Regions from separate parts of the Homo sapiens genome. Here all the other regions are linked to region 1. Evidence: fine-mapped expression QTL. A gene starts in region 1. Each other region holds a variant in brackets. All regions are shown on one strand. Distances are between the middles of the regions. Region 1 holds the start of STMN3 (stathmin 3). Region 2 overlaps GMEB2 (glucocorticoid modulatory element binding protein 2). Region 3 overlaps GMEB2 (glucocorticoid modulatory element binding protein 2). Region 4 overlaps GMEB2 (glucocorticoid modulatory element binding protein 2).

Region 1 (5,144 bases):
AGGGTCACACCTCACGCCCACCCCTCCCGTCGCCCAGGTGGATGGTGCCCACTCCCAGGGTCACACCTCACGCCCGCCCCTCCCACCCACCCGGGTGGATGGTGCCCGCTCCCAGGGTCACACCTGACGCCCACCCGGGTGGATGGTGCCCGCTCCCAGGGTCACACCTCACGCCCACCCCTCCCGCCCGCCCGGGTGGATGGTGCCCGCTCCCAGGGTCACACCTCACGCCCACCCCTCCCGCCGTCCAGGTGGATGGTGCCCACTCCCAGGGTCACACCTCACGCCCACCCCTCCCGCCGCCCAGGTGGATGGTGCCCACTCCCAGGGTCACACCTCACACCCACCCCTCCCGCCCACCCGGGTGGATGCCCTTATCAGCTCTCCTTCTCCTTCTCTTTCGTCTTCTTCGTCTTCCTCCTCTTCTTTCTTCTTTTTTTTTTTTTTTAGAAAGAGTTTCTACTCTTGCTGCCCAGGCTGGAGTGCAATGGCACAATCTCAGCTCACTGCAACCTCCCTCTCCCCGGGTCAAGCAATTATCCTGCCTCAGTCTCCCAGATTGCTGGGATCACAGGAGTGTGTCACCACACCTGGCTAATTTTGTACTTTTAGCAGAGAGGGGGGATTTCACCATGTTGGCCAGGCTAGTCTCGAACTCTTGACCTCAGTTTATCCACCGGCCTCAGCCTCTCAAAGTGCTGGGATTACAGGCATGAGCCACCCTATCTGCCTCACTTCTACAGAGGAGGAATGAAGGCTCAGAGAGGGCAAGCATTCCACCCAGCATCACACAGAGTGCCGGGTGAGAGCCCAGTCATGAGCCTGGGCCTGACTGCAGGCTCCTGTTGGGAGCTCGCGGAGGTGGGGGATCTGTCCAGAACTGAGAGGCCAGGGGACCACAGTGGCCTCTGACCCCTGGAGGGCCCTGGAGGCTGCTGCCGGCTCCCCCCGGGGGCAGATGGAGGTCACTGTCACCCAGGCTGCTTCTCATGGTGCCAGGAGCACAGCATGGCAGGAGCCACCAGCCGATTTGCCTTTCCCTGGGCAGGAAACTCAGAAATGTGGCTACCACAGTCAGGCTGCTTGACGTGCGGTGAGCACTCATCTCTTAGCAGGCAAGCGGCCAAGCACCTTTCCTGAAATATTGAGGCCTCAGAACAAGCCCCAGGAGAGGTGCCAGCACCGTCATCTCTACCCAGATAAGGAGACCCAGGTCCTGAGAGGTTAGGCAGCTCGGACAACACCACACAGCTGGAGGAGGTCAGACTCTGGGTTGCAGAAGGAGAATGTGAGCAGAGGCCACAAAAGAGCGAGGAGCCAGTGCCCAGATGCCGAGATGCCCTCGCCCTCCCAGCTCAGCCCCAGGAACCGAGCCCATGGGGAGGGACCGTCAGGGAAAGGCTGTCAGGAAGGGCAGGAGGCGGCCCTGGAGAGGACGGCGCTGCCCTCAGGGGCAGGAGGGGAGTCCCCTCCGCTGAGAGCCCCCCCACCCCCAGTATCCCCGGGGGTGTCCAGGAGGAGGCGGAGGGAGGAAGCGCAGATGGACAGGACTCCCAGATAGGGTGGGGAGGTGTGGCCGGTGACACACACGGTCCCCTCCTGGCAGGTGCTGAAGTCACCTGGAGCCTCCAAGCCCGTGGGGCCTGAGGGGCGGGGTCAGGTCGGGCACGCGTGGGTGGGCGGAGTTCTGCGCCCCGGGCCAAGGCGCCCGAGTTGAACCAGTCAGCTCGGGAGAGGGACCGCGGCGACCTGTCCCGGGGGCGTAAGAAAAGGTGGGAGGGAGTGCGGCTCGTGAACGGGGGCGGCGATGGGAAGGAGGTGCGGCCCTTCGTCCTGTCCTCCCAAACGTCGAGTGAAAAACGAAGCGGGTTCTGCGGCCTCGCGGCGGAGCAGAGCGTTTCGGGAAGGGCGGGCCCAGCGTCCTCGCGCCCGAGGTCGCCCGGCAGCTCCCCTGCGTCCAGAATCCGCCCCCCGCCCGGGCCTGCGCCCGCCCCTCCGCCTGAGCTCCGCGCGGGACGGGCCGGGAGGCCGGGGTGGGCGCTACCTTCGAAGGCGGTGGGTCCGCCCCGCGGGAGGTGGAGGGGCGGGAGGGGCGGAGCCCTCTGGTCTCCGGAGGGTTTGGGGATCGCAGTCGCCCCTCCCCCATCCAGACCCCGCGGCGCAAAGGGCAGTGGCTTTTCTGGCCAGAGCAGGTGGCGCGGGCGTCGCAAAGGGTGGTCCCCGAGGCCGCAGCGGTGTGGGGGGAGGGCGCGGTCCCCCTCACTCCGGGCTCCGCCGTGTCTGGCCCGCCCCCCTCCTTCAGCGCCCCCTCCAGCCCCTGTGCTGCACTGGCGCGGGGAGCGCCGGGTTCCCGGCTGGGGCTTTGGCAGAGGGTCCCACCCTCTCCCCGCCTCCCCACGAAGGCTCTGGCGGACCCAGATCTCGGGTCGCCGGACGCCCCAGGGACCCCGCCCGCACATCGCGAGCGCGCCCACCCGGTCGCGAGCCCACGCCCGGGTCTGGGAGCCACCCTGCGGCAGTCGCGCCCTGCGTGGCACGCTGCTCCCCCAGGGGCGAGGCGCCCCCGCCCGACGTCCCGGTCCCGAGCGCTCCCCGGCGCGGCGCCTCGCAGCCCAGCGCCCCACCAGCCCCGCCGGCGCCGCAGACCCCAGCCTCGGGCGGGTCGGGCCCAGGCTTGCAACGCGCAGGGTAGGAGAAGGGAAATTGGCGTCCGCTGCCGGCCGCTGCCCCAGGCGAGGCCAGACGAGGCCTCTGCTCAGATCCCGCCGCCCCACAAAGCCCGTGGCCCCGGAGCCTACCGGAAATGGTGCTGGCCATGGTGCTGGCGGCGGTTGGGCCTGCGGAGGCTGGAGAGGCGCAAGTGGCGGCCGGAGCTGCAGACGGCTGGTGCTGCAGTGCCGGGGAGGGGAGGGGAGAGGAGTGGAGGGAGCGAGGGCGGGCGGGAGGCGGGCGCGGCGGGAGAGAGAGAGGGAGGGAGACAGAGGGAGAGAGAGAGAGGGTTGGGGGAAGGAGCGGGGGGAGGAGGGAGGGAGGGTTGGGGGAAGGAGAGAGAGAGAGAGAGAGACTGCGGGGGCGGGGGAAGGAGGGAGGGAGGAAGGGAGGGAGGAAGAGAGAGAGGAGCAAGCGCCTGGCTGCGGAAGGGGCCGCGGCTCTCAGGGGGAGAGGGCGGAGGAGGGGGGCTACCCGAACTGCAACAAGACCCCCCACCCTCCAACCGCTCACAGCGGGACAGCTGCTTCTCCAACTTGGCTTTGTGAGGCCTGAGAGTGGGGTGGGGGTGGAGATGAGCCCCCATTCCCCAGGGCAGGCGGGGCAGGGGCAATGCCGGAGGAGCAGGTCCCACCCATGGGGTGGGGCCGCAGAGCTCTTCGCCGCCAAGGCCGCTGTAGGCTGGGCTGGCGCCAACAGGGTCCAGGTCTGTGCCTGCCATCGGAGAGGATGCCACAGCCACAGGGGTGGGCGCTGGCCTGGAGGCCTCCAAGGGGCATCTCCTGTGAGCCCAGGGGATGGGCAGGATCTGAGCGGAGAAGAGTGAAAGTGGAGGAGTGAGGCCAGAACAAAGGCTTTGCCGTGAAAGAGGTGGTTTCCCGCCTGGGCTCAGACCTTCACTCACTGTGTGGCCCAGGCCAAGGGCAAGCGTCTGACCTCGCTGGGCCTTTGTTTCTCAGGGGTAAGATGAAACAATGATGCCCCCAGACGATGGAGAGGAGGGGTGCCAGGGTTGTGCGCACTTAGTGAGTGGGGGGCAACCTATCCTGCCTCCCCCTCTCCTCATAACTCCCAAAGGGAAAGCCTGGTAGGCAAACGGAGCGTCTTTGCCATTGCAGGGATGAAGCCACCGAGGCAGGGAGAAAAGTGCTTTGCCCTACAAGCAACTAAGTCATAGGGCCAGGAGCAAAACCCTGAAAACCTCAGGAGACTTGCAGAGCCATGAGGCTGGCTCAGCAACACAAAAGCCAGGGGCAAGCCTCAGCTCTAGCAGTGCGGTGGGAGCACCCAAGGCCAGTCACATCCTAGGGTGGCCTGGAGAGTCCTGACCCCTGACGTGCAAGCCGGCATCATCCCCGGGACTGTGAGTCTGGTGGGGGTGATGCCCAGGAATGTGACATTGTGTGGCCCAGAGGTACCCTTAAGACTGGAGGATCACCAGGCGGGCCCTGACCTCATCACAGGAGCCCTTTAAAAGCAGTTTCCTTTGCCTGGTTGAAGAAATCGGAGGGATCAAACCAAAGAAGGTTTTCTGTTGTTGAGATGAGGGGGCCACGTGGCAAGGATCTGAGAACTGCTCCCAGCCAACAGCCAGCAAGACAACAAGACCTTAACTGCAAGGAAGTGAGTTCTGCCAACAAGAAGAGAATGGGCTTGGAGGCAGGTTTGACCCCAGGGCCTCCACACAAGAACTGAGCCCAACTGCCCACTTGGTTTCAGCCTTGGGTTACTAAGAATTAGGAGGTAATGAATGAGAGTTGTTTTAAGCTGTTGGTTTTGTGGTGATTTGCTATGAAGCCATATCAAACTAATATACACACAGAGGTGTTGGCCCCTGGGCCATTCCTAGGAAGCCAGCTCTGCGAAGGAGGAAGAAGGGCAGAGAGGCACACAGAGCTGCCCACCACAGCAGCTGTGTCCTCCCTGTTGGCCACCACAGTAGCAGTTGGGGATGGTCAGCATCCTTCAGGCAGACTCCAGCCCCGGGTGCTGGAGCTCAGGTGCTAGGGATCAAGAGAAGTAGCCCTCTCTGGGACCTCCAGAGTCTTCTCATGTGGGTGGGGTAGGACCCACCCAGTCAGGCTCAGAGCACCGCAATGCCTCACACTCATTGTGACTCTGGCCAGGCCCTCTCTGAGCCTCTGTGTCCTCATCTGGAGCACAGGGACCAGGTGTGTGGAAGCCCGTGGCATAGTGCCAGGAACACAGTAGATGTGCACAGTGTGCACTAGCAGGAACACACAACAGGGGTACTGACTGTCAGCACCTAGGCAGGCACACGCAATGGGGTACTGACTGTCAGCCATACTGACTGTCAGCGTGCTAGCAGGCATACACAACAGCTGTACTGACAGCACACTAGCAGGCACATGCCATAGGTGTACTGACTCTCAGTGCACTGGCAGGCACACGCAATAGGAGTAATGACAGCATGC
Region 2 (5,144 bases), 41 kb before region 1:
TTCTAGAAACATGTCCCTCTGACTCACCTCCATTTCTAGAAACATGCCACTCTGACCCCACACATCCATTTCTAGAAACATGCCCCTCTGACCTCACCTCCATTTCTAGAAACATGCCCCTCTGACCCCACCTCCATTTCTAGAAACATGCCCCTCTCACCCCACATCCATTTCTAGAAACATGTCCCTCTGACCCCACATCCATTTCTAGAAACATGCCCCTCTGACCCCACCTCCATTTCTAGAAACATGCCCCTCTGACCTCACCTCCATTTCTAGAAACATGCCCCTCTGACCCACCTCCATTTCTAGAAACATGCCCCTCTCACCCCACATCCATTTCTAGAAACATGCCCCTCTGACCCACCTCCATTTCTAGAAACATGCCCCTCTGACCCACCTCCATTTCTAGAAACATGCCCCTCTGACCCACACCTCCATTTCTAGAAACATGTCCCTCTGACCCCACCTCCATTTCTAGAAACATGCCCCTCTGACCCCACCTCCATTTCTAGAAACATGCCCCTCTGACCCACACCTCCATTTCTAGAAACATGCCCCTCTGACCTCACCTCCATTTCTAGAAACATGCCCCTCTGACCCACACATCCATTTCTAGAAACATGCCCCTCTGACCCCACCTCCATTTCTAGAAACATGCCCCTCTGACCCCACCTCCATTTCTAGAAACATGCCCCTCTGACTCCACCTCCATTTCTAGAAATTAATCCTGCAGACATGGTGTTCCCACACTGGCATGAGGGTTGTCTGAAACAGGGAACAAGTCTCCAGTTTCTGGAACCCGTGCGGGCAGCTGCCTCTGGGGAGATGATGTGGAGAAGCTGGGAGAGGTCTGGGTGGGGTTCCCAGCTGTGCACCTCATAACAGCCAACTGTATGATGTGTGCACTTCTAAACTTCCAGAAGTTTGCTTAAAAACACACGCACACCAGCCGGGCACGGTGGCTCACACCTGTAATCCCAGCACTTTGGGAGGCCGAGGCAGGCGGATCACAAGGTCAGGAGATCGAGACCATCCTGGCTAACACGGTGAAACCCCGTCTCTACTAAAAATACAAAAAATTAGCCGGGCGTGGTGGCGGGCGCCTGTAGGCCCAGCTACTCAGGAGGCTGAGGCAAGAGAATGGCGTGAACCCGGGAGGTGGAGGTTACAGTGAGCCGAGATCGCGCCATTGCACTCCAGTCTGGGCGACAGAGTGAGAATCTGTCTCAAAAAAAGAAAACAAAACAAAAAAAACATGTAGCAAGAGGAAGTCTCAATTTCCAGATGGTAGAAGAACAGATTTAATTCCCCACAAAAAAGAAGAGGATCTTTAAGTCCTTCAAGACAGCCCTGCCTCAGCTGCCACGTGGGGTTCTCTTCTCAGAGAAGAAGGCGCATGCAGACTCTCCACTGCTCCATAAGCCACTGTCCCGCGAGGGCAGAGCCTTGGCGTCCTGGCAAAGCAACTGCAGACTGAAAAATGCCCTCTGGTCCTTCATGGCTCCCTCCATCAAGACAGGGGGCTATTTCCCACCCCCTCCACTTGACTTTGGGCCAAGCTTTGAAGAGCTTTGACCAAGAGGCTGTGACGAGGCCCTACGAGGACTCTGGCTCTCCTCCTGCTAAGCACACCCAGGCAGGTGTCCTGGCAGATGAGGACCACATGCAGAGCCTCGGCCAGCCCACCAATGCCCGGATATGCAAGTGAGCCCAGCCTGGACCCCCCGGCGAGGCCCAGCAGCACCAGCCCAGGCCCGAAAACCTTAAGAAATGACCAGTGTCTGCTGCTTTAAGCCACCAAGCTCTGCGGTGGTTTGTTAGGCTGCAAGCATGGCTAATTCAGAAACTGCCAGAAACAAGCACTGCTGTCCCCAGCCTGGGACACACAGCACCGCCTCTGCGTGGGGAGAGGGCACAGGCTAAGGGCACAAATGCCATCCCAGACCCGGCTCTTGTGTGTGGAAGGGGCCACTGTGCCATGAGGCAGAGGAAACCTTGGCAGGACCTTATGCCACAGCAATTTAAAAGAGAAGAAACAGGCTGGGCGTGGTGGCTCATGCCTATAATCCCAGCACTTTGGGAGGCCAAGGTGGTGGATCACTTGAGGTCAGGAGTTCAAGACCAGCCTGGCCAATATGGTGAAACCCTGTCTCTACGAAAAATACAAAATTTAGGCAGGCGTGGTGGCGGGTGCCTGTAATCCCTGCTATTCAGGAGGCTGAGGCAAGAGATTTACTTGAACCCGGGAGGTGGAGGCTGCTGCAGTGAGCTGAGATCATGCCACTGCACTCCAGCCTGTGTGACGGAGTGAGACTTGGTCTCAAAAAAAAAAAAGGAAACACATCTGACTAGTGTGATCTCGCAAGGAACATTCCAGACACAGTGGAGCTAGAAGGTTCTTCTCCAAACAAGGAATCCCCAGGGGATCAAATTGTTTTGCATCGGCCAGACATGGTGGCTCAAGCCTGTAACCCCAGTGCTTC[G/A]GGAGGCTGAGGTGGGAGGACTGCTTGAGTCCAGGAGTTCAAGACTAGCTTGGGCAACACAGTGAGAGCCCATTAGCCAGGCGTGGTGGCACATGCCTGCAGTCCCAGCACTGTACTAAAAATCTACACGGGGCCGGGCATGGTGGCACATGCCTGTAGAGTCCCAGCTACTCAGGAGGCTGAGGCAGGACGATTCCTTGAACCCAGGAGGTCACGGCTGCCATGAGCCGTGACTGTGCCACTGCACTCCAGTCTGTGCAACAGAACGAGACTCTGTTTCGAAAAACAAAAAATCATTTCATGTCTCCAGTTTCTCCACTGGCAAAAGACTCTGTCAAGGTAAAAAATGGTTCTGACCCACAGAAATCTAAGAAAGGAAAAAATATAAAAAATAGAAAATTTAAAAAAGAGATGGTCTCAGAATAAAGACCAACCTGGGCTATGGTTGTCACTCTTCCCTCACACCTTAGAAAGCTTTCTGGCCGCATCTGGCCAAAGGGCCACCCTGCCCCATCTTGGATCAGTGAGGTGCCTTCGAACAAGCCACCTGCCCTGGAGCCCGTCCTGTCTTGTCTGCCACCGCACGCTCAGTAGGGGAGGGGAAGTCGCTAGGTTTTAGTTCACCAGTCTCTGGATCAAGACGTGCCATAACCAAGAAGCCCCAGCCACACCCAGACCCGACGTGGCCACAAGGGGTGAGCTGGGAAGGCCCAGGAAAAGGCGGGAGGCGGACGAATGGAAATGTCATTCTGTGGCCACAGAAATGATCTCAACGTTTTGTAACTTCCTACCAAGAGGCAGTCTTAGCTCTGCCCTTGAACCAGCACTTGGTGATGTCGCTTGCGTCAATCAAGGCAACAGAAGTGAGCAGGAGGCCCACTTTCCTCTGCAACTGTGGGCTTACGGGGCAAAGAAGTCCAGGCCTCCAGGTGGAGGATCACAGACCGGGCAAAGCAGAGGAGAGCCACCCAGCCGAGCCTACCTGTGCCTCAGACTGCCTCCCTCCAGAGACCCCTGTGGCCAAGGCCACCCAGACCAGCAGGTCCTTGCCAAGCTGTCAGCTGACGACAGGGGTTGGTGAGGCCGGCCCAGACCAGCAGAACCACGAACCAACCAACAGAATTAAAAATAATAACAACTATGTCTTGTCTTAAGCCACTAAGTTTTGGATGGTTTCTTTCTTTCTTTTTCTTTTTTTTTTTCGGAGACGCAGTCTCACTCTGTTGCCCAGGCTGGAGTGCAGTGGCGCAATCTTGGCTCACTGCAAGCTCTGCCCCCCGGATTCACGCCATTCCCCTGCCTCAGCCTCCTGAGTAACTGGGACTACAGGTGCCTGCCATTGGGTGTTTTCTTAAACAGCAAAAGAAAACTGACACAATCATAAACAGAGCAAGCAAGAGAACTTGGCAATTATTTCCTCTCTACTTCTCACTGTTCTTCAAAGAGTTAACTCAAGCATAAGATGTGAGCAAATTCTTTTAACATCCTAGAAAAAAAGCTCCTACTCAGTGTTCATAAAGCAAAGCTAACCTACAGGAGCCACCTTCCACAGTGACCACAGGAAACCAAGACAGCAAGTGGGACACCAGCCTCCAGGGCACTGCGCCAGCCGTGCGCCTGTGTCTGCCACTGCCCTGGTCCGTCACTGCCACCAGCCGGCAAGACACCCACAGAGGAGAGCTCTAAGCCACAACTGTGTACGAAGACAACTGTGCAGGATTTTATTACTACAACATTTTTGTTTTCTTTTTTTTTTTTTTTTGAGACTGAGTCTCGCTCTGTCACCCAGGCTGGAGTGCAGTGGCACAATCTCGGCTCACTGTAACCTCCATCTCCCTGGTTCAAGCAATTCTCCTGCTGCAGCCTCCCAACTGGATTACAGGCGCCCGCCACCACGCCTGGCTAATTTTTGTACTTTTAGTAGAGACGGGGTTTCACCATGTTGGCCAGACTGGTCTCAAATTCCTGACAAGTGATCCACCCACCCTGGCCTCCCAAAGTGCTGGGATTACAGGTGTGAGCCACTGCGCCTGGCCCATTTTTGTTTATCAATAAAAATGTACTTAATGTTGAACTCTCCACATTTCAAATGGGTAACTCCAGTGTCCTTGATGCTCCTGCGACATGTTCGTGAGACTTCTCTTGGGTGTGAGAGTCTAGCATGTGGGTGGTCTGGACAGGAGGGGGAGGGAAGAGTGCAGAGCAGGGCAGGGTAAAGAGACCCCCTAGGATGTGAAGGCCGCCCTGCATTTGTCAGACTGGGCAACACCCACTCCATCAGATGGACCCTGGTATGGGCGGCAAGCCACCTAGGTGCCGAGGCAAGAGACCGAGGGCACGAGCTGTTCCGGTGTAATAAAATGCATAAAATAAGAATAGTTATACTAGATATAGATCATAAATATGATTATATATGAATATCATTCATCATTAGTTTGTAGCAATTACTCTTTATTCCAATATTATAATAATCCTTGCCTAAGCATAACCTAGGAAAAACTAGGAAATCATAACCTAGGAAAAACTAGGCCATACAGAGATAGGAGCTGAGGGGACATAGTGAGAACTGACCAGAAGACAAGAGTGCGAGCCTTCTGTTATGCCTGGACAGGGCCACCAGAGGGCTCCTTGGTCTAGCGGTAACGCCAGCATCTGGGA
Region 3 (5,144 bases), 55 kb before region 1:
ATGGAGCGTCCAGGTCGGCCCCAGAGCCGAAGGCACCTGGCCCGCCCACCCTGACCTGGGCCATCCACCTGCGTGGGGCAGGCCTAGCAGAGGCGCTGGCAGCTCCACAGGGCAGGGTGGGCTCTACTTCCCTCTTAGCGCGAGCTCGGCGTGCAGGACCCTGCTGCTGAAGAAGCAGCCGGCCCAGGCCCACGCTACGGCACTGTCCCCAGGAAGGGGGCAAGCGCTGGCCAGTGGGTGTCCTGGAGGTGCCCGTCAGAGTCTGTGGGGCTGGGCCTTTCTGGGATGTCCCACTACCCCAGCCCCAAGGGAGTGACCCACAGCTAACAAAGGTGGGCCCAGTCCACCTGCATCATGCGTGACTCATTCTGAAGCAGAGGAAGGTGGGAAATCACTTCCAGGAGAACCTTCCTCCTTCTAAAGGCACAGAGACAGCCAAGAAGAGTGATGAGGGCGCAGGACAGCACCAACGGCCATGGCTGCCGCTCATCCTCATCTTTACCAGGAAGGCTTCGTACGGCCCAAACTGCTGAGAGCCGCCCTCCCAGGGCCCTCTCTTCTGCCTCTCCGGAGGTCCAGGGTCTCAGTCCTGTGTGTCTCAACGAGCCTGCCTCGACCCATGAAACGAGGGTCAGAGGCTCCAGCCTCATTCAATCTTTGGGCAGCACTGACCTCAGGCACACACAGGCTAATGCTTCTGTGGTCAGCTCAGGACTTGCCTACCTGGCCGGTGGTCCCCACAGCTGTGCCACCAGCCACGTTCCAGAAAATCAGAGGCCAGTTCAGCTGGACAGGGAAAGGACCTGAGCCATGGGAAAGGACCCAGGGCTAGTCACTCGTGAGGTCTCAAACTCTGACTCCAGCACAAAGCAGGGGCCCTCCTTGGGAAGCAAGGTAGAGGCCAGGCCCACAAAGACTGAGACTGAGGCTTATGATTCACAGATAAGTGAAGGCCGGGCACGGTGGCTCATGCCTGGAATCCCAGCACTTTGGGAGGCTGAGGCAGGTCAATCACCTGAGGTCAAGTGTTCGAGACCAGCCTGGACAATATGGCAAAATCCCGTCTCTACTAAAAATACAAAAATTAGCCGGGTGTGCTGGCGAGCACCTGTAAACCCAGCTACTGGGGAGGGTGAGGAAGAGAATCGCTTGAACCCAGGAGGCAGAGTTCGCAGTGAGCCAAGATCATGCCACTGCACTCCAGCCTGGGCAACAGAGCAAGACTCCCTCTCAAAAAAAAAGTGAAAGAAAGGACAGAAATAAGGAGTAACATAAAAGGCCAAAATCTGATGCACAAATACCAGATTATACCTTTCTTTTATTTTTTATTTTCAGAATGCATAATTGGAACAGACCCTTTTCTTTTCCTTTTTATTCTTGTTTTTTTTTTTTTTTGAGACAGAGTCTCACTCTGTAACCCAAGCTGTATTGCAGTGGCACAATCACAGCTCACTGCAGCCTTGACTTCCAGGCTCCAGTGATCCTTCCACCTTAGCCTCTCGAGCAGCTGGGACCACAGGCATATGTCACCAAATCCAGATAATTTTTTTTTTATTTTTAGTAGAGATGAGGTCTCATTATTGTGCCCAGGCTGGTCTCAAACTCTTGGCGTCAAGTGATCCTCCTGCCTCAGCCTCCTAAAGTGTTGGGATTGCAGGTGTGAGCCATGTGCCCAGCCAACCCTTTATTTTACAACGCTGAAACAGTCACAAGTGCCTTCAGGTAAAGAATTGGTGGAAATTAAAATGACTGACAAAACAATTCTAAAAATCTGATAGTGTCCCTGTTGGCAGGAGTGTGGGAGACGGGTTTACAGTTTTGGGTGTGAGCAGGTGCAGCAGCCACCCGGGAGGTTGTCAGCACTCACCACATCTAAAATACGCCTCATCTTCAAAATCCCAAAACCCCACAAGAAAGCAAGAGCTGCCAGGGCCCCTTCCAGCAGGGAGGCTGACCCTGCGCCAGCGCCCACCTGAGCATGATGCCGTTCATGCGGATGGCTCTCTTCCAGTCCTTCAGGGTGGACTTCCCGGCCAGGTGCACAAATTCCTTTGGGCTGATTACATGCTCGTCGTACTGTGGGGGACACAGTCATGTGGGTCAAGCTTGGCCGGGACACCACATAGGGTGCCCCCATCTCCCATCCGACCCTGAGTCAGGCGCG[C/T]AAGGCAGGAAAAGCGCCACGGCACGGCTCTGACCGGTGCAGGCCTCCTACAGAGCATTCAGGTAAAACAAGGACATGACCCACAGGCACGGTGGCTGCAGTGGGGAGTGGTGTCTCCTCCAGCCCTGAGGGGGCAGAGCTGCTGTGTGCCTGGGGCTAGACAGGGCTGGGCTGACCACACCAGGTAGAAGGTGTGTGGCCTTCTCTTCCTCCAGGCAGACTAAGCAAACTGCTTCTGTGCAATGTATTTTATAAATACACGTTATTGCATACGTTACATCGCAGATGGCAACAGATGCCAGCACATGGGTGGAGCTGTGAACGCCACCTTCCTCAGGTCCCTCCTGACACCACCTTGCCCCGTGCAGCAAACACCGGCACCTGCTCTCACTCTGACACACACACACACACACACACACACACACTCATCTGTTTCTAAGCCAGGGGAACCCTCCTGCTTGCTAATTTCACCCATGTGGGAGCTCAGAGAAACTGAGAAGGTAAAATATCCTGTTCAATCTTGTTACACAAGCAATTATTGAAACCAAAAACTGGAATAAAACTGCATTTACTTAGAAAACAAGCAGGCTGGGGATGGAGGAGTCACGAGGTCTCTGCAGCTGGACCCAGGAGGCCCGAGTACGGGGGCCGCCTCCACCCCCGGGCCGTGCCCAAGTCTAGCTTGCTGAAGGAAGTGATGTTCCCAATCCCTGAGCCCACCCTCTCATGACCCCTGTGCCACAGACGGGAACACTAAGCCCAGCCAGTCTCTGGCTCTCCCTCATGCGGCTGATCAGGGAGATCCCATAGAAGTCCAGAAGGTGGAATCCAGAAGATTCTCTGGCCACTGTCGGAGCCTGGCAGGAAGGCTGCACTGGCTGTGACTGAGGCTGCTTCCGGCCATCACTTCTACCCAACGTGGCTCACACCTAGGAAACTCAACTGCACCCAAAGGGCCTGATCCTACCTAGGGCTCTGGGCTCAGCCAGCCTCACCTCCCTGCCCCTCCTAGGCCTGCCTCTTTCCTTTCTTGCTTTCACCTTTGTTACTCTTCTCACCCCAGGTTTTCCTCTCCCAGCTAGGAAGCTACATGCTGTACTCTCATGAGTGGCTCCAGGAGCTTCAGCATGTCACGCTTACCAGAGCTGCCAGAGCCCAGAGCTAACGCGGCCACTCCTGACCCCCCAGAGCTAACGCAGCCGCTCCTGACCCTCCAGCGCTAACGCGGCCCGCTCCTGACCCCCCGGAGCTAACGTGGCCGCTCCTGACCCCCCGGAGCTAACTCGGCCCGCTCCTGACCCTCCAGACCACAGCCACGTGGCCCTGCTCTCATCTCTGAGGCCCTCCAGGGCGTCTCTCTCGATGCTGAATAGACAGGACTGGTCGGGTGACCCACGTTTCCCCGACTCTTCACACCTCCTCACAGCACAGCGCTTCCATCTGGAGGCCTCCTATCTCCGCCTGCAATGCATATTTAGAACATCCTTCCATCATGATCTGCTGGTGGCAAACTCGTGTCTTTTTCTGGAAACGTCTTTCTTCCAGCATAATTTCAAAGACGACCTCACGGTGTCGTCACTCGCCACACAGTGAGGCTCTGGCGCTGCCACCTCTGCTCCTGCGCTGCTTTCGGGAGCTCACGGCCGGCGGGATTCTTGCTACTGAGCGATCCGTCTCTCCTCCTGGCTAGACTGAGGATCTTCTCTGTCCCCGTCCTTCTGGAATTTCATTATGATGTCACCTATGGTACATTTCTTTCGTGTTTCCAACTTCTAATTCTAATACAATTTCAAACTCACAGGGTAATTGCCAGGATAGTCCAGGGAGCTCTCACACGTGCGTTCCGGACTCACTGCCTGCTCCCGTCTGCCCCCTTGCCCCCGCCTAGACCTGTGCACGTGCAGCTACTGAGAGTGAAGCAGAGACGTCGGGCCCCTGGGCCCTCAACACTTGTGTATATTTCCTAAGAACAAGCTTCTCTTACGCAGCCACAGAACAACTCGCATCAGGAAATTATCATTCATACATTATTCTCTAATCCATTGTCCATAGTCAAATTCATGAATTGTTCCAATGATAGCCTTTATTGCAAAAAAAAAATTTTTTTTTTTGAGATGGAGTCTCACTCTGTCGTCCAGGCTGGAGTGCACTGGTGCAATCTTGGGCTCACTGCAACCTCCGCCTCCCGGGTTCAAGAGATTCTCTTGCCTCAGCCTCCCGAGTAGCTGGGAGTACAGGCACATGCCACCATGCCTGGCCAATTTTTTTGTATTTGTCGCAGAGATGGGGTTTCACCATGTTGGCTGCGCTGGTCTCGAACTCCTGACCTCAGGTGATTCACCCGCCTCGGCCTCCCAAAGTGCTGGGATTACAGGCGTGAGTCACCATGCCCAGCCTACATTTTTTTCTGATGCAGGATCCAGCCCAAGACTGTGGAGCATGCAGCTGCCTTGCTCTTCGGCTTTTGTCCCCATTAAGACTGCAGCAGGCCGGGCGCGGTGGCTCACGCCTGTAATCCCAGCACTTTGGGAGGCCAAGGCGGGCAGGTCACCTGAGGTCAGGAGTTCGGGCTCAGCCTGGCCAACATGGCAAAACCCCATCTCTACTAAAAATACAAAAATCAGCCAGGCATGGTGGTGGGTGCCCGTAGTCCCAGCTACTCAGGAGGCTGAGGCAAGAGAATCACTTGAACCCAGGAAGCGGAGGTTGCGGTGAGCCAAGATCGCGCCATTGCACTCCAGTCTGGGCAACAGAGGAAGACTCCATCTCAAAAAAAAAAAAAAAAAAAAAAGACGGAGCAGCTTCTCAGCCTGTCTGTGTTTTTCTTCACCTTGACGTTTTTGGAGCTTGTGGGTCAGGTATTAACGTAGGCTGTCTCTCCATGAGTGTCTGCTGTTTTCTCATGAGTAGAGTCAGGCTATGAACTGTTGGAAGAACACCACAGACCTGCTCACTGCATCAGGAGGCTCAAAGGGGAGGT
Region 4 (5,144 bases), 65 kb before region 1:
GCTGAGGAGTGGCCAGTGCTGCACCGGCTCCTGGGGACACTCAGTGGGTACAAGACATGACCCCTTGTAGGTTTGTATCTTGTGGCCTCTGAAACCCCATGAAGTATCAGGAGGAGGAGATATCATGGTGGGATACTGAGGGGTGCAGCCCCCTCCAGGGGCAGAGGGAATGATGGGGGTGCTCAGGACGTGTCAGCAAATGGGAAGGGTCACAGCCGGAAGGGTAGCAGGAGGGTAGGAAGGGCCAGAGGTGGGAACCGGGTAGTTACATCGACCTGAGAGAGATGGAGGGGGCCTGGCCTCACAAGAAGGGGATGCATCGTGGATGTGAGGTTGCAGGAAGGTGGGCTGAGCCTGTGGGCAGGTGTTGGTGCTCCCCTCCCCGACGGGGCACGATGGGGACAGAGCATGGGAGGGAATATGAAGCAGGAGCTCTGTCTTGTACACATGGAATCTGAGGAGCTGACAGATGACCTGTGGGGAGGGTGGTCCCGTGCCAATGTGTGCTGGAAGGACATGCCTGTGCGTTTATCAGCTCTGGGCTGCAGCAGGGCACAAGCGTGGAAGAGCAGCCATGGCAGAAGGGCAGGTTTCAGAGTGGACTCTTGGAACCAGCGCCCTGTGCCCCTCCAGCCACCGTCCCGGAGGGCACCCAGTGACCCGGCTTTCGATGCCATTCTGCCTTGAGGGACGTGTCCAACTTTCCTAAGTGGAACCACGCGGCATGGACTTTTTTTTTTTTTGAGACAGAATTTCACTCTGGTCGCCCAGGCTGAAGTGCAGTGGTGCAATCTCGGCTCACTGCAACCTCTGCCTCCCAGGTTCAAGCGATTCTCCTGCCTCAGTCTCCCGAGTAGCTGGGATTACAGGCACCTGCCACCACGCCCAGCTAATTTTGTATTTTTAGTAGAGATGGGGTTTCACCATGTTGGCCAGGCTGGTCTCAAGCTCCTGACCTCAGGTGATCCACCCGCCTCAGCCTCCCAAAGTGCTAGGATGACAGGCGGGAGCCACCACACCCAGTGACCACACAGCGTGGACTTCTATGTCTGCCTCTTGCTGGGCCGTGAGTCTGGGAGGCTGGCCTGTGGCTGGTGTGCAGGCTCCTATGGCCTTGGGTGGACCATGGCAGCAGGGAGGGGAACAGCGTTGGTGACGAGAAGGCTCTGGGACTGAACCTGGGAGAGGGGAGGAAGGGGCCCCCCTGGGCGTGAGTCTGTTGAGCTCCTGACTGGCGGGCGCAGGCCCCTGTGCCACTGAGAGGTCTCCTTACCTGTGAGCGGCGGTGCCTCCGACGCCAGCCTCGGGTCAAGGTGGGGCCCAGGCTGTTCTTACTATTGTCCTCCAGCGATTTGCAGGACACCTTCAAAACCCTCACGAGTTACCGAATCGGCTGATTCAAAACCCTCACCAGGCACCAAATCGGCTGATGCTCTTGATCTCCGACTTGCCAGCGTGCAGAACTGCATAAATGAACCTCTGTTGCTTGCAAGCCCCCCAGCCTGCGGTATTTTGTTACAGTAGCACTAACGACTAAAACGGCCATGATCCTCCCACCAGGCCTCTTGAAAACTCCGATGCGTGCTGGGGAGAGAAGGACAAGGGCACAGGGCACCTGCTGTGATGAAAACAGCTTTGACCTCGGGACACCCTGGAAGGGTCCTGAAGCCCCCAGGCCACACTTGGAAGAACGAAGCATGTGGGTGTGAGTGGTCCGGGGCGGGGGTGGCAGCCAGCGCTGTTTGCGTTGGGCGTGTTTATAGACTTGATTTCTCTCCACACTTCATTCCAAGAGATAGACACTCAAACTATGAAAATTGTTTTTATTTTAAATCAAAGTACCAGGCAGATACTTGCAAAACAACATACAAAGCAAAACTCAAACATGGCCCTTCCCTAGGGCGCCTCTGAGCAGGCACAGAGAAGTTCTCACCCTCTGCAAAATCCAATCCAATCCTATCTTCTCAGAAAACCAAACCAAAGGCAGCCATGAAAACCCGTGTTCTGTACGTGGTTGAGAAGGTCCTCCTCTCTGAGTACTGGCTGGCCCCAAGGCGCAGAACTGGGAGGTCCAGGGAACCCTGCCCCCGAGGAGCCAGCAGGACCTGGAGGAGCCGGGGGCGGTGCTGACAACAACCTTCCCCACCCACTGCAGTGTGGTTCCCATGAGGATGAGGGCTTCTCCAGGGCCCTTCCCCACGCTGGGGCTTGGAGCCCCTGCCAGAAGCAGCTGGGTTGGCGGTAGATGTCCCCGAGGGCCTTGGGAAGCACTGGGAATGGGCTCCCAGCCCTGGTGGAATGGGGGATTGGGAATTAATTCTGAAGCTGGTTGTGGCTTATTTTTGTATGGCTCTGAAATTAACTTCCTCTCCCTATGCCTCAGTAGCTAAGGGGCAGGGGCAGAAAAGGTCCCAACCCTGTTCTTAAAAAGAAAGGAAATGAACCCACAACCCACTGGAAGTTCTGTTGACGAGGGCTGTCAAGGCAGACGCACTCGTGACTTTGACAAAGGGAAGCAGCTGGAAGGTTGCGGGTCCCAGGGTCACAGGCAGCTGTATTAGTGACAGGTTCTGAGCTGGTGGGTGGGGGCC[G/A]CAGGGCTCTCCTGACCCCCGTAGGGTCATACCGCTGCATGCTGCAGAACTCAACTAGAGTGGAAATGAGTTTAAAACGGAGTATGTACATCAAAAGATCAACATCACGCCGAAACCAGCTGACTGTGACAACAGCAAACAAAAATGTAACAGAGAAAACAAACAAGACACAGCCTCAGTAGCTTGACATGGGTGAGGGCAGCCAGGACAGGGCCCTGGTGACAATGGCGCAGAGGTGGGGTCTGGGCCGCTCACTGGACGGACAGCCAGCCAGTTCCCTTCGGAGCAGTGAAGTGGGACACAGGACCCTCGCATTGCGGGGCCTCAGACGGGCCTTCAACTGCCGACAGAATCAGCAGGAGCGTCCAGGGGAATCTGGCACTCAGGGTCCTCCCGGGACATGCCCTGTTGGAGACGGCAGGAGGCCTGGGCTGGCTGCTCCCTGAGATGCCTGCCCCAGGACCCTGGCCTGGAGGGGCCTCAGCCTGGTCTTCCTTGTGAGTCCAAGGCCAGGTCTCAGGACAGCCACAGACAGCCCTTCCAGACAGGCTCTGGGCTCCACCTTCGGCAGCTGCCCTGAGCAGCCCACCCGGGGCAGCCTCCTGAACACCCAGGGGCTCTCCCTTGGACAGAGACCACCAAGGGCCAGCCCAGGGGCTGCATGGGGGCCGGGGGCCAGGGAGCCAAGGGCTGTTCCGTGGCCAAGCAGCCCAAGCTGAAGGGCCCACATGGGAATCCTCGACCTCCATAGTGACTGGTTCTGTTTATGCCTCTGCCCCAGGACTGAAGCCCTAGGGACACACCTCATGGATCTCAGACCCCTGGGAGGGGCCGGCTCAGGGACAGGCTGCCCAGGACCTCCGCACCCGGTCAAGTGCACTCACAGGGGCTCAGGGGCCACCCAAAGAGCTAACTCGGGAAGCCTAGGCACTCACCATTATTTTGGTTGAAAATGCTATAAATCTGACTCTTCCTAGAAGCCTACTAAGCAATTCACTTAAAAACACCCTCAGTACATGTGCAACAATGCCTGGACCACGCCTCGTCTGTGCGGCCCCTGGGCCACCTGAGCACCGGCTGGGGGCGGGGGAGGCAGGCACCCATCAGGATCTGCACCCCAAGCTCCGGGTGCATGTTCCCAACTGGAGGAGAACGGGGCGCCAGCCACACTAAACCTACAGAAAACTGTGGGAAGAAACCAAATCCATAGGATCCAGAGGTTTCACACTTGGGCTTAGCTCCCAAGTCATGAGTTAGTAACGTCCCCAGGGACCTGGCTGGGTGCAGACATGGGGGCCTCGTGACCTGCTGCACCGCGTCCAGCACCTGCAGGGTCGCGCTCGGCACCTGGCTCTGCTTCCTCTGTCTCTGCTGCACCCAGGCTCCCCCTAGCCCCCGCCCACCTGGCTCCTGATCAAGGCCCAATGTGTAAACAGTATTAATAAGCAACAGATGGAAAAATATATTTCCCAAGAAAAAAGGGGGAGGAAACGTGGGACCTGAAGACCGATTTTCCAGGTTGCTCTCGCTGTTCTGTCCCCTTCTCTCTTCTCGTGATTTGTTTTGGCGATTCCTCTCTTTGGTTCTGCAGACCACGTGACCCACCTGCCCGAGCCAGCCCTGCGGCCTCTGCCCGCTCCCTGCTGCCGCGGCTGAGAGACAGCCAGCCCTGTCCGTCCCAGGGGCCTCGCCCTCCTGTCGGCTACTTCCGCTCGTGGTCCTCTGCCATGGCAGCCACCTCAATGGTGGCCGTGTGCTCCTCAGGCCCGGGGGCAGCCCCTGCGGGCACTGTCACAATTGTGCTGGAGCCAGGCGAGGCCTGGGCCACGTTCTGCAGGGTGGGGCCCAGGCCAGGCAACGTGAGCAGCTGTAGCGGGCTGACCACCTTGAACACCGTGCTACCGTCCTGCACGGCGGCCGTGCTCAGGACCGTGAGGCTGGACGCGTCCGGGTGGATCTCCACTGTGCTGGGGTAGGTGGAGCCGGAAGAGGCCAAGACTGTGTATCCCCCGAGCAGCGGGGAGGCCGGGGAGCTGGCGGGGGGCGCCTGAAGGGAACCCTTGCCCAGGACGGTGGACGGCAGGGTGGACACCACTTTACCAAGGGGCACGCTGGTCAGCTGGGGGACGGGCACGCCCGGGCCAAGCGCCAGCTGGGCAGACTGGGTGAGCACCTGCGAGGCCATGGCGGCCGGTCCTGATGTGGCACGTGCAAGCCGGGGCCGCTTCACAGGCGGTGGCAGGGAGACCGGCGTCAGCGTCATGAGCACGTTGCTGAGGTGCTGGGACTTGTGCTTCAGCTCCTTGGCTCGGCGACGATGCTCATCACACTGCTGCTCCAGGGCTGCAGGGAGGTACAGATGGCATCACACAGGGGACGGGGGCATGGATGGCGGCATGCAGGGGATGGGGGCAGACACGCCACACCATCTGGGTGGCCCCTGGGTCAGTGGCAACCCAGGTCTGCTCACCTGATGCCACAAACCCAGATGACCACATGGCCGCCAAAGGTGAGGTCTGTGGGAGACGGGGCCCAAGATGGCCCTCGGGGTAG

What was found.
Region 2: its variant is fine-mapped to the expression of STMN3 in whole blood (INTERVAL, PIP above 0.99).
Region 3: its variant is fine-mapped to the expression of STMN3 in whole blood (TOPMed, PIP 0.99).
Region 4: its variant is fine-mapped to the expression of STMN3 in whole blood (TOPMed, PIP above 0.99).

Annotation. Positions count from the first base shown.
Region 1 is chr20:63,650,529-63,655,672 of GRCh38, forward strand. STMN3 (stathmin 3) reads right to left here and starts at 2,896. Exons shown (of 5, transcript NM_015894.4): 1 at 2,799-2,896. The coding sequence starts at 2,817. RefSeq lists enhancers at 1,029-1,599, 2,876-3,555, 3,556-4,234 and silencers at 2,574-2,663, 2,684-2,733.
Region 2 is chr20:63,609,290-63,614,433 of GRCh38, forward strand. All of the region lies in intron 2 of GMEB2 (glucocorticoid modulatory element binding protein 2), which reads right to left. Among named protein-coding and RNA genes, the nearest start is that of GMEB2, 15 kb to the right of the region's middle. RefSeq lists enhancers at 1,204-1,373, 4,670-4,839. The variant G/A (reference allele first, on the strand shown) is at 2,487.
Region 3 is chr20:63,595,785-63,600,928 of GRCh38, forward strand. GMEB2 (glucocorticoid modulatory element binding protein 2) reads right to left here. Exons shown (of 10, transcript NM_012384.5): 5 at 1,973-2,076. Among named protein-coding and RNA genes, the nearest start is that of HELZ2, 24 kb to the left of the region's middle. RefSeq lists an enhancer at 2,022-2,191. The variant C/T (reference allele first, on the strand shown) is at 2,165.
Region 4 is chr20:63,585,796-63,590,939 of GRCh38, forward strand. GMEB2 (glucocorticoid modulatory element binding protein 2) reads right to left here. Exons shown (of 10, transcript NM_012384.5): 10 at 1,810-4,934. The coding sequence ends at 4,294. Among named protein-coding and RNA genes, the nearest start is that of HELZ2, 14 kb to the left of the region's middle. RefSeq lists enhancers at 1,683-1,852, 2,446-2,615, 4,533-4,702 and a cis regulatory region at 1,768. The variant G/A (reference allele first, on the strand shown) is at 2,592.